Linked DNA regions of Homo sapiens. The protein of the gene in region 1 binds, or shares a complex with, the protein of each later gene. Each region holds a gene or a part of one and is shown in the gene's direction. Other genes may lie near its edges.

Region 1 (5,517 bases):
CTTTGGACATGCAAAGCTTTTCATTTCTCCTAGGTCTTAAGTTCCTTAGCTTGATGTTTTAAATGTGTGTGGGGCAGGGGGTATAGGCAGAAAAATTTAATTGGTTCATACCGTTATTTTTTAAAACAGACATAAATATGGCCAGGTGTGGTGGCTCACGCCTGTAATCCCAGCACTTTGGGAGGCCAAGGCAGGTGGATCACCTGAGGTCAGGAGTTCAGGACCAGCCTGGCCAACATGGTGAAACCCTGTTTCTACTAACAATACAAAAAATTAGCTGGGGCTGGAAGCGGTGGCTCACGCCTGTAATCCCAGCACTTTGGGAGGCCGAGGTGGGCGGATCACGAGGTCAGGAGATCGAGACCATCCTGGCTAACACGGTGAAAACCCGTCTCTACTAAAAAATACAAAAAAAATTAGCCGGGCATGGTGGCAGGCGCCTGTAGTCCCAGCTACTCTGGAGGCTGAGGCAGGAGAATGGCGGGAACCCAGGAGGCAGAGCTTGCAGTGAGCTGAAATCGCACCACTGCACTCTAGCCTGGGAGACAGAGAGAGACTCCGTCTCAAAAAAAAAAAAAAAAAAAATTAGCTGGGCACGGTGATGGGCGCCTGTAATCCCAGCTACTTGGGAGGCTGAGGCAGGAGAATCGCTTGAACCCGGGAGGCAGAGGTTGCAGTGAGCTGAGATTGTGCCACAGCACTCCAGCCTGGGCAACAGAGCAAGACTCCGTCTCAAAAAAAAACAAAAAACACTACCTCTCTATTCCCACTGCTTGACTAGCCAGGCTTAACAGGGAAAAAAAAGCATTAGCACATGGCCACCTTTCTCCTGATGGGAAGAATCTTCCACCATTCTGCTTGGCAAAGTTCTGAAGCTGGACTATAGAGGGGAGACCAAGAACTCACCTTCTTCTGCAGTTTTGCCCCCCAGTGTGAGGAATTCTAATACCTGTTGCTTCATTGGTTTCTACAGATAATTTAGCTAACTAGCTAGCTAGGCAGGGAGCAATCTAATCCACCTTGGTACTCTTCTTCTTCTCACAGGTTGAGTCTCCTTCTCAGATGGATGTTGAATTGGTGAGTGGGTCTCCTGTGGCACTCTCACCCCAGCCTCGATGTGTGAGGTCTGGTTGTGAGAACCCTCCCATTGTGAGTAAGGACTGGGACAATGAATACTGCAGCAATGAGTGTGTGGTGAAGCACTGCAGGTGAGCTTACAGTTCTCCCTTTTATAATTCAGCTACTGGTCAATTCTACTGGGAAACATAGGAATCTTGAGCATAAAATCAGCATCTCAGTGTCACCTTACCTTAGGTAGAGTAGGTTGCTGTATCTGGTCTACTAGAAAAGCTCCCCTGCTTAAGAGCTTACATTTGCCACATAAGCCAAAGATGATGTAATCAGCAGTTCACATTTTTCAGTTACCACATACCTCTCTTATGTATGCTCTTTAAAAATATAATACATTAAGCTGTTAGTGTTTGCAAATATTAGCTTTTCAATTCTTGGTGCAAATCAGACTACTTAGGGAACTAGAATTTGGGGAGAAATGGTAAGTGGAAAGTAACACATAATAATTTGCAATTTGTGAAGGAAATGGGGAGATGGTTGGAATATTTTACCCCTCTCCCCAAATTTTCCTGGGAATTTCCTATAGCTGTAGGACAAGGCATTTCTATTTCCTATTTCAAAAACTCTGCAGTAAATTAGCATTGCCTCTACTTCTGACTTTTAAGCCCACTGTTCTTATATTTTCAAGGTGATACTATCTCACCATAATGCTGTAGGAAATTATCTGGGAACCTATTTGTTTAAGACAGATAAAAAATCCAGCTGGGCCATACAGTGAAACCCCATCTCTACTAAAAATACAAAAATTAGCCGGGCATGGTGGCAGGCACCTGTAGTCCTGGCTACTCAGGAGGCTGAAGCAGGAGAATCTCTTGAACCTGGGAGGTGGAGGTTGCAGTGAGCCAAGAAGATCACGCCACTGCACTCCAGCCTGGGCAACAGCGAGACTCCATCTCAAAAAAAAAAAAAAAAAGATAAAAAGAATGTAGCGGCCGGGCGCGGTGGCTCACGCTTGTAATCCCAGCACTTTGGGAGGCCAAAGCGGGCGATTCACGGGGTCAGGAGATCAAGACCATCCTGGCTAACACAGTGAAACCCTGTCCCCACTAAAAATACAAAAAATTGGCCGGGCATGGTGGTGGGCACCTGTAGTCCCAGCTACTCGGGAGGCTAAGGCAGGAGAATGGCGTGAACCCATGAGGTCCGTCTCAAAAAAAAAAATGTATCTAGGCTGTAATTCTATTTCAGTTTGTGTATAATTCTGTTTGTGTATGTCTTTTTCTCTCTTAGGGATGTATTCTTGGCCTGGGTAGCCTCTAGAAATTCAAACACAGTGGTGTTTGTGAAATAGTCCTTCCTGTTCTCCAAGCCAGTGAAGAGTTATCTGCTGGGAAAGTGTCCAAGAGCCTGTTTTTGAAACACAAGCTGGGCTTCTGGTAGTGCCTCATCACAACCCATGATGGCTGTTCATGTTTCACCCCTTTTCTTCCTTCAGCAGAGGCCAGGCTATGGAGCAGGGCCACTGAATTTGCTGTAATCTGGAGATGCTTTTTACTTTCAACCATAAGCGGTAATAGCAGAGGAAAGGGTGAAGGGAGTCTGGGCAAGCAAAGCATAGAGATGGTGGGGTGGTGGTGGGGTTGAAGAAACTTGTTGGTATAATTGTCATAGGACTTGCCTAAAATATTATTAAAATTACGGGAGTGTACTCAGCTTTGAGCCTAGGAGAAAATGCCACTGTGTGCATCCATTTTAAAGGGTTCCCTCATAAAAAAATGTTATTCCCCATTATCACATCAGTACACTGCTTTGAAAACAAAACTTTTCAACATGGGCATACTGGGCTACATGGAAAATGACATCACCCAGGAGTGATTTCTCTTTATATATATTATTTCTGCAGTTACCATCCTTATCTGAGTTATCACAGTTCATGAATCTAAGAGGCGGAACTCTACATCATTAGTAAGAGGTTCCACCAAAGTCTAAAGTTGTATTCACTTGTGTTTGATGAACTATCTTTAAAAGACCATAGGTCTATCATTATTTCTTAGACATAATCTAAAGAAAAACAGACTAGAGAAGCCACCTGGTTGTAACAGAATAAGCAGAAGTTTACAGCATGATAGTCCAAGTGGTGATAACTTTAAATAAAACTCAAATTTTTACTGTTTGTAGACAGGAATGCTGTCCTAGAGAACCTCCTCCTCAACCAGCTACGTACATAGTTTTATCCTATGCATTCCTGTTTTCTGTGTGTTTTTTGTTTTTTTTTTTTTTTTTTTTTTTTGAGACAGAGTCTCGCTCTGTCACCCAGGCTGGAGTGCAGTGGTGCGACCTCAGCTCACTGAAACCTCTGCCTCCCGGGTTCAAGCGATTCTCCTGCATCAGCCTCCCGAGTAGCTAGGATTACAGGCGCCCGCCACTACGCCCAGCTAATTTGTGGTATTTTTAGTAGAGACAGGGTTTCACCATGTTGGCCAGGCTGGTCTCGAACTCCTGACCTCATGATCCGCCCGCCTTGACCTCCCAAAGTGCTGGGATTACAGGCATGAGCCACCGCACCCAGCCTGCATTCCTGTTTTTTTAATGGTTTTGGAGGGTAGCAGTAGAGATGGGGTCTCACTATGTTGCCCAGTCTAGTCTTGAACTCCTGGGCTACAGTTACCCTCCTACCTCGGCTTCCCAAAGTGCTCGGATTACAGGTGTGAGCCACTGTGCCTAGCCTATAATGATCATTTTAATGTTTCCCATGCACTCATTTAGTTTGAACCTTCACAGCAACCCAATGAGGTAATACTCCCATTTCACATATAATACTGAGAGATGAGTTGCACAAGATTATACACTGTTAAGTAGCAGAGCCAGAATGGACTTCAGAATCCCAACTACAATACAAATGTTTATTTAAATAAAGAAGAAAGCTATTGTACAAATATCACTCTTCAGGTTTAGCTTACAGAGCCATGGCTATGGATTCTTAGCTCTGTAAGGAAGTGCTTCTATAAATTCTTAGGTTTAGAGATGATACCATCTGGGTACCTTTGCTTGAACCGTGCAACCACATCTGGGTCTAGTAGGTGGATCCCATCCAGTTGGTTTCCAAGGGTGATCCTGAAACAGTGTAAAAGGAGGGGCAAACCAGAAATCCTGGAATTAGAGGGTTTAATATTGTTAAAAAATGCATACCAAATGAAGACTGCCTATCATCATATCAAATATGCCAATTCTAAAAAGAGCTTAACATTAGAATAGTATATGGTAGAATTACTAGTTCAGAATTGGCATAGATTCTGGTGTTAAAATAGACTGGATCTGTATTATCTGAGGGTTAGTAACTAATGCTTAGCCAGGCCTGCTTCACAGAGTTGCTACCAGGGAGTATTCTTTGGATAAGCAAAATGCTAGCAGCATGTGTTTTAAGCTCTGTTAAGGGGTGAAAGATGTAATTATTGACAGATTAAATAGATAACTTCGTAACCACCAGGGGGCAGATTCAATACATCACAGAATGGCTGAGGAAGATCCTTGGGTTGTGAAGAGAGTAGAAACCCTAGGGAGCAGTGCTTTTGGGTCCTAGAACCTGTTGAGTTTCTAATGAATATTTGTAGAATCTCATAAAACAGTTTAAATACAAGCTTAAGTGGCTTATGAATCCTGTGAAGCTCATTTATGGACTAGTGTAAAACAATGTGAAGCTCTACTAAGTTCTGTCCTTAATCATAAATAATAGCCCCTTGAGGACTAGCCTGTTCTCTGGTCACCTTACCAGTTGGGTTGCACATTGTGTGGTCGTCCAAATAACTCAATCTTGCGAGTGCCAGGAGATAGTCTTTCAATCATGCCATAGATTTCATCTGGTTTATGACTGGTGGAACGAACCTAGGAAATAAAAACTAGCTGCTTTTTAAGTTACACAAGATTGCAATTCTAGCCCTTTCTATTATGTTTATGATCTAAATGAGAAAAATCTGGGATGAGAATACACCCAACATGAATAACTGATACCAACAAAAATGTGGAAGCTTTGGAGGCCTGGGAAGCACATACCTCAGCTACGATCACATCACAATCCAGACCCTGGTTGAAGCCTTGGGGATTTCCTTTGACACCAACCTGCTCACCACAGATAACAGATTACCTTATGAAACCACACCTTTGAACTTTTTCTCAGTAAGAAATCAAATGATTCTTCTTTGTGCTCCACCTATTGAATTGGGCCCCACTGCTGCTCACCAAGCAGTGTTCCTTCCCATGGTTCAACCAGTGACCTGTACGGCCTGTCCGAATGATGCGTTGCAGTTGATTTGTCTTCACCCAAATAATTTCATCTACCCGTTCATACCTGTGGGGCATAAAAAAGAACTAGAATTTTAGCCAAACTTTTACAGTTTAGGGGTAGTACCATTTATAGAAGCAAGGAATCACAGAATAGTCTGGGAGAAG
Region 2 (7,041 bases), on another chromosome or scaffold:
ATCTCGTGATCTACCCGCCTCAGCCTCCCAAAGTGCTGGGATTCCAGGCATGAGCCACTGCGCCCGGCTCAACGTGGATTTTCTAAGCACAAAGACATTCTTATGTAACCAGAGCACAGTTATCCAAATTAGGAAATTTAGTACTGATACAATACTACAGGGCATGCTCTTGAGTTTTCTCTGATCAATTAATTGTAACCTTGTTTCATTATCTGTGGTGAAGGAGTGGCCTGGTAGTTAGGAGGGAACTGGGTACTAGTTTGGCCTGTGACTAGGTATGTGACATTGGTCAGATTACTTCTTTGGGTATTAGACAACCTCTTTAGTTTCCATTCTAGGCAATAATATGATGAAAAATTTTGTCACTAGTATAGGTCAAACCGACCTCAGAAGAAAAGAAGTATTTCCTTGGGAAGGCATGGTATTGTATCTTTTATTTATTTATTTTTTTGATAGGGACTTTCGCTCTTGTTGCCCAGGCTGGAGTGCAGTGGCTCCATCTCGGCTCACTGCAACCTCCGCCTCCCGAGTTCAAGCGATTCTCCTGCCTCAGCCTCCTGAGTAGCTGGGATTACAGGCATGCGCCACCACACCTGGCTAATTTTGTATTTTTAGTAGATGCGGGATTTCTCCATGTTGGTCAGGCTGGTCTCGAATTCCCGACCTCAGGTGATCCGCCGCCTCGGCCTCCCAAAGTGCTGGGATTGCAGGCATGAGCCACTGCGCCCGGCCTTTCTTTTTGTTTGTTTGTTTGTTTTGTTTTGTTTTGTTTTTGAGACTGCCTCACTCTTTCCTAGGCTGGAGTGCAGTGGCGTAATCTTGGCTCACTGCTGCAACCTCGCTGCTGGATTCAAGCGATTCTCGTGCCTCAGCCTCCCGAGTAGCTGGGATTACAGGCACCCATCAGTGTGCCTGCTAATTTTTGTATTTTTAGTAGAAATGGGGTTTCACAATGTTGGCCATGTTGGTCTCAACATCTTACCTCAAGTGATCTGCCCACCTCGGTCTCCTCGGCCTCCCAGAGTGCTGGGATTACATATGTGAGCCTCCGCACCCGGCCCTGTTTTTTTGTTTTGTTTTGTTTTGTTTTTTTGTTTGTTTGTTGTTAAGACAAAGGTCTTCCCCTGTTGCTCAGGCTGGAGTGCAATAGCATGCTTATAGTTCACTAAAGCCTTCATCTTCTGGGCTCAAGTGATCTTCCCACCTCAATCTCCAAAGTAGTTGGGCCTACAAGCACTCGCCAACTTACTTGGCTATTTTTATTTTTAGTGGAGACAAGTTCTCACCAGGTTGCCCAGGCTGGTCTCAAACTCCTGAACTCAAGCGATCCTCTCACCTAGGCCTCCCAAAGTGCTGGGATTACAGGTGTTAGCTACTGTGACCGGCCGAAGGCATAGTATCTTTATTAGATGACCCTAGTGTTAGAATTTGGGAGTTTGAAAATGGCTAAAGCAAGATTTTGTGTGCTTAGTATTTTCCAGTTTACTGGTCATTTAAATTTTCTTTACAATGGAGTTCGCCCATTGAGTGATATTTCAATTTGGAAGAGTATAAAGGATATTGTTTGTGGTAGGTGAAGCAAATTACTCAAAGTGAAAGGTTAATATTATTTTCCTTGTTGATGCTTGATCACCAGAATTATAGTTTGAGGAAGGAAGCTTACCAAAATATTTGAAAAATGTTGTGCATGTATTTTGTAAGACCCACATGGATGCAGTACAGTATAATCTTGCTTTCAAGTTAGGAAATGAGTCCAGGTGTGGTGGCTCACACTTGTAATCCCAGCACTTTGGGAGGCCGAGGCGGGTGGATCGCCTGGGTCAGGAGTTCAAAACCAGCCTGGACAATGTGGTGAAACCTTGTCTATACAGAAAAATACAAAAATTAGCTGAGCCTGGTGGCAGGGGCCTGTAATCCCAGCTACTCAGGAGGCTGAGGCAGGGAGAATTGCTTGAACCGGGGACGCAGAGGTTGCAGTGAGCCGAGATCGTGCCTCTGCACTCCAGCCAGGGTAACAGAGCGAGAATGTCTCAAAAACATAAAAATAATAAAAATCAAATTGGGAAATGAAATGAGGCAGTAGATTTCTGTTATCAGGAAAAAAAATCTCAGGTTAGTGTTTTTGATAAATTTGAGACAAATAGACCAGATCTAAGTGGAACCAGAAATTTTCCTTACACTATTCTCTTTCAACTTGTCAAGTTAGAGTTGGCTCTTCATGTTCTGTCTTTTTTTTTTTTTAAGACGGAGTTTCGCTCTTGTTGCCCAGGTCGGAGTACAATGGCGCGATCTTGGCTCAATGCAACCTCCATGTCCCGGGTTCCAGTGATTCTCCTACCTCAGCCTCCCAAGTAACTGGGATTACAGGTGCCCACCACCACACCTGGCTAATTTTTTTAATTTTTAGTAGAGATGGGATTTCACCCTGTTAGCCAGGCTGGTCTCAGACTCCTGACCTCAGGTGATCCACCCACCTTGGCTTCCCAAAGCCTGAGATTACAGGCGTGAGCCACTGCGCCCGGCCAGTTTCTGTCTTTGCTATTGTAGATGGGATGAAATAACTGATATAAACTTCTTCCACTGGTAGCAGAGTCAACTATGTAGAGAGTAAGTATACAGCCACACACTGAGACTGCCTCACTGGTTACCACACAGTAACCCCACATCAGAACCCCAGACAGTGCACTTGGCAAAGTAGCCTTTGCTGATCTTTTTAGGAGTGAAGTGTTATTTCAGTAAAGGTAAGAATGTGGAAAATCCAGTGTATTTGTAGTGAGAAGTCTGTTGGAAATGGGTTTCATGTAGGGAAGCCCTTGGCCTCACTTTAACAAAAATTGAAAGTGCAAATAACTGACTTCTTAAAGACTGCTTGAGTCGTGATTGTTTAGTACCTAGATTCTGAGAGGATTTTACATTGAGAGGATTAGCTTTCCTTTTCATAAATTGGAACTCTTGGTTAACATTAGTACAGGATTTATGAAATCTTTCTAAAGAACTAAATGTAGGACATTATGTTAAAGGCTTTCCTGTTTTTTCAGTTGATCGTATTGGAGAGTTATTTTAGCATTTGAATCTAGATTTACATAGATATTTAAGTCTCAAATTTTTATTTTTCTTTTTTTTTTTTTTGAGATGGAGTCTTGCTCTGTTGCCCAGGCTAGAGTGCAGTGGCGCGATCTCAGCTCACTACAATCTCTGCCTCCCAGGCTTAAGTGATTCTCGTGCCTCAGCCTCCTGAGTAGCTGGGACTACAGGCGTGGGCCACCACACCCAGCTAATTTTTGTATCTTTAGTAGAGATAGCGTTTCGCCATGTTGGCCAGGCTGGTCTCAAACTCCTGACCTCAGGCAATCCACCCTCCTCGGCCTCCCAAAGTGCTGAGATTACAGGCGTGAGCCACCACGCCCAGCCTAAAATTTTTCTAACTTAACCAGTATGTGTTAGAGTTTTTGGTTAAAGGTTCTGTTGAGACCAGTTTTAGCCTTGCTCTTCAAGGTTCTGTAAAGGGAGACATTTAAGGAACTTCAACAAATGGAGATTGATAACCTCTAGCTTGGAAATGTGTGATTTTTTGTCTGTTATTGAGGTGGAGTCTCACTCTGTCGCAGAGGCTGTATTGCAGTGGCACGATCTTGGCTTACTGCAACCTCTGCCTCCTGGGTTCAAGGAATTCTCCTGCCTCAGCCTCTTGAGTAGCTGGAATTACAAGTGTGTGCCACCACACCCGGCTAATTTTTGTATTTTTAGTAGAGACGGGGTTTCACCATGTTGGGCTGCTCTCGAACTTCTGACTACAGGTGATTTGCCTGGCTCGGCCTCCCAAAGTGCTGTGATGACTGATGTGAGCCACCACCTTGTGGCCAGAAATGTGTGATTTTGCTTTAAAGTAAAAGCAAAGGAACTATTTAACTGGTTTTGCTAGAGAAAGTTAGGCTTGCCTTCTAAAAGGCTCAGCAAGCGCTTTTGACCTGTAGGATAGGAAGGATGGATGTCTTCTGCAAGAGCAGGTTACATTAGCAAAGGCAAGCAGTTTTGCATCTGGTTTCAGTTTTGAGGAATCACTGCCGTCTTGAAAAAAAAAAACACAGAGCTTCTTTCTAAATGGATGTCTTGAGAAGAAAAGTTTGGCCTCTTGGGTTTGACATATTCTCATATCCCTCTTTGTTGTAAGTTAAGACTTGTTTTGTGTGCCTTTCTTCCCAAGTAGATGTACAGCCATGCATCACTTAGATGGGGATCATCACGTGAGTTTTTGTTGCAGCAGCATCATAGAGTGTACTTACACAAACCTGACGGTATAATCTGCACACACCTAGGCTGTTTGGTATGGCCCATTGCTCCTAGGCTACAAACCTGTACAGCATTTTACAGTACTGAATACTGTAGGCAATTATAATATAGCGTTAAGTGTTTGTGTATCTAAACATAGAAAAGGTGCCGTAAAACAGTTTAAGGGATTTAAAAAATGAAACATCGGTTGTAGAGGGCAGCTCTATTATAATCTTATGAGACCATTACCCTATGTGCTGTCTGTTGTTGATAAAAATGTCATCACATGGCACATGATTGTATTTTTTCTCAAAGCTTTTGAACATTGTAGTAAAGACTGAATTGAATCCCCAGATTTACTTTTACTTCCCACCTAACCTTGCCACTAGGTGTTCTAAGGTGGAAAGCTTCTTCAGATGGCTGTTGCTTGAGCGTTGTTTTTTCCCTTTTGGAAGAAGTTGTTTCTTTCCAGTGTTAGAACTTACCAAAAATCCTCACCTTTGCCACATCATTCAAGTGCTTCTCTTTATGTGGAGATCCCAGATTTTGATGATGGAGAATGTTCATGATTTTCTGTCTCTATTTTCTTATCAGACCAAAGAGAACCCTGTACAGTAAGAAATATGGTGTGGACCTCATCAGATACACTCATGCAGCAAACACAGTTGTTTACAGCTCTAACAAAATAGACGGTAAGCAAGCCTTTTTAGGAAGTTAAGGTCATGGTTTCCTTTGTTAAATAGTTCATGGAATCTTTGTGACTACTTCTGCTTTGTGACTACTTTAGTTTAAGTATTTTCATATAATGTTAGTAATGTTAATTGCATTGTTTTGACTGAAGGAATGCTGGAAGCAAGCCATTGGCACTTTTGAAGGACTTGGGACTGAGTATGAAAAGTCTTCAATTCAGAGTGGGGAGTGGAAAAAGGAAACAACTAATTGTGTTTATGATTTGTACTTCCTGACACTTAAAAGAACGCTTTTAAAGCCGGGCGTAGGGGCTCGCGCCTATAATCCCAACCTTTGGGAGGCTGAGGTGGGCGGATCACTGAGGTCAGGAGTTCAAGACCAGCCTGGCCGATATGGTGAAACCTTGTCTCTACTAAAAATACAGAAGTTAGCTGGGCACAGTGGTGCACGCCTATAATCCCAGCTACACAGGAGGCTGAGGCAGGAGAATCTCTTGAACCCGGGAGGCAGAGGTTGTGGTGAGCCAAGATCACGCCATTGCACTCCAGCCTGGGCGACAGAGTGAGACTCCATCTCCAAAAAGAACACTTTTAGAACAAATAAAAGGAAAGAACACTTGATACACAGCAAGTGATAAACAACAGGACTTTTTCTTTTAAAATGATAGAGATTTGAGAAAAGTTTCACAAATGCTTGAACTATGATAGTTTAAGGGAAGTTAGAACAGTTTTGGTGTTTTCCCAACCTTAGTCACTTCTGATTCCAGGAACGTTTTTTGATCTAAAGAGTAGAGTTACTTTTAGAAATTGAACTTGTGAGTTTCTTTCTATAATAAACAATCTCTGTTTTTGCCTGCATGTCTCGAGATAAATCCTAAGTTAACAGATTGTCTTGGTAACTGAACTGTAACACTTATTTTCATGTTAGAATTCTTTAATTTTTTAATTTTGTTTATTTTCTTTTGTTTGTCTGTTTTTATTTTTTGAGACAGAGTCTCACTCTGTTGCCTAGGCTGGAGTGCAGTGGCGCGATCTCAGCTCGCTGCAACCTCCGCCTCCCGGGTTCAAGTAATTCTCCTGCCTCAGCCTCCCAGGTAGCTGGGACTACAGGTGCATGCCACCATGCCTGGCTAATTTTTTGTATTTTTAGTAGAGACAGGGTTTCACCATGTTAGCCAGGATGGGTCTTGATCTCCTGACCTTGTAAGCCACCGTGCCCGGCCTATTCTTTATTCTTTTGAGACAGAGTCCTGCTCTTGTTGCCCAGGCTGGAGTGCAATGGTGCAATCTCGGCTCACTGCAATCTCAGCCTCCTGGGTTCAAGCGATGCTCTTGCCTCAGCCTCCCAAGTAGCTGGTATTACAGGTGCCCACCAACACGCCCGGCTAATTTTTGTATTTTTAGTAGAGTTGGGACTTCACCATGTTAGTCAGGCTGGTCTCGAACTCCTGACCTCAAGTGATCTGCCTGCCTCATCCTCCCAAAGTGCTGGGATTACAGGTGTGAACCACCACGCCCGGCCAGGATTCTGTTTTTAAACTTATTTCAGTGGATTATTGATGATCATCTCACATTTTGCAGTAAGGTTTTTTTTAGGCCGGTGGCTACATAGTGGCTCATGCCTGTAATCCCAGCACTTAGGGAGGCCTAGGAGAGTGGATCACTTGAGCACAGAAGTTCGAGATTAGCCTGGGCAACTTGGGAAAACCCCGTCTCTACAAAAAATACAAAAATTAGCCAGGTGTGATGGGACGCGCCTGTAGTCCCAGCCACTTGTAAGGCTGAGGTGGGAGGATTGCTTGAGCCCTGGAGGTCTAGGGTGATCACACCACTGCACTCCAACCTGGGTGACAGAGCGAGGCTCCATCTCAAAAAAACAAAAAAGATTTTTCTAATGTCATTCCACAAGGATAGCTTATACTGCTATTTTGGCTGTGCCTATCTCAGAGCAGAATGGGCGGAAGTCCTTTTTTCCATTTTTTTTTTTTTTTAATGAGACTCTTCTGCCTGTATTGATTTTTAGTTAAGTATGTCATTTCTACTTTTCATGCCTGTATTTCAGAAGTGGTTTTCTAAGGAAGCA

What was found. Proteins that work in one complex are often made in the same cells at the same time.
Region 2: TOX4 (region 1) and WDR82 share a complex: the UniProt entries of both Homo sapiens proteins name them as parts of the PNUTS-PP1 phosphatase complex.

What each region holds. Positions count from the first base shown.
Region 1 is NC_000014.9:21,494,185-21,499,701, forward strand, and holds the end of TOX4 (TOX high mobility group box family member 4), read left to right. Parts: intron 1-1,044; coding exon 1,045-1,208; intron 1,209-2,361; coding exon 2,362-2,422; 3' UTR 2,423-4,073; coding exon of another isoform or gene 4,074-4,185; 3' UTR 4,186-4,840; coding exon of another isoform or gene 4,841-4,953; 3' UTR 4,954-4,986; downstream 4,987-5,517. Other genes in the region: N(6)-adenosine-methyltransferase catalytic subunit METTL3, read right to left, coding at 4,074-4,185, 4,841-4,953, 5,122-5,187, 5,308-5,416. UniProt on the Homo sapiens protein: Transcription factor that modulates cell fate reprogramming from the somatic state to the pluripotent and neuronal fate. In liver, controls the expression of hormone-regulated gluconeogenic genes such as G6PC1 and PCK1.
Region 2 is NC_000003.12:52,268,632-52,275,672, reverse strand, and holds part of WDR82 (WD repeat-containing protein 82), read left to right. Parts: intron 1-4,863; coding exon 4,864-4,961; intron 4,962-7,041. UniProt on the Homo sapiens protein: Regulatory component of the SET1/COMPASS complex implicated in the tethering of this complex to transcriptional start sites of active genes.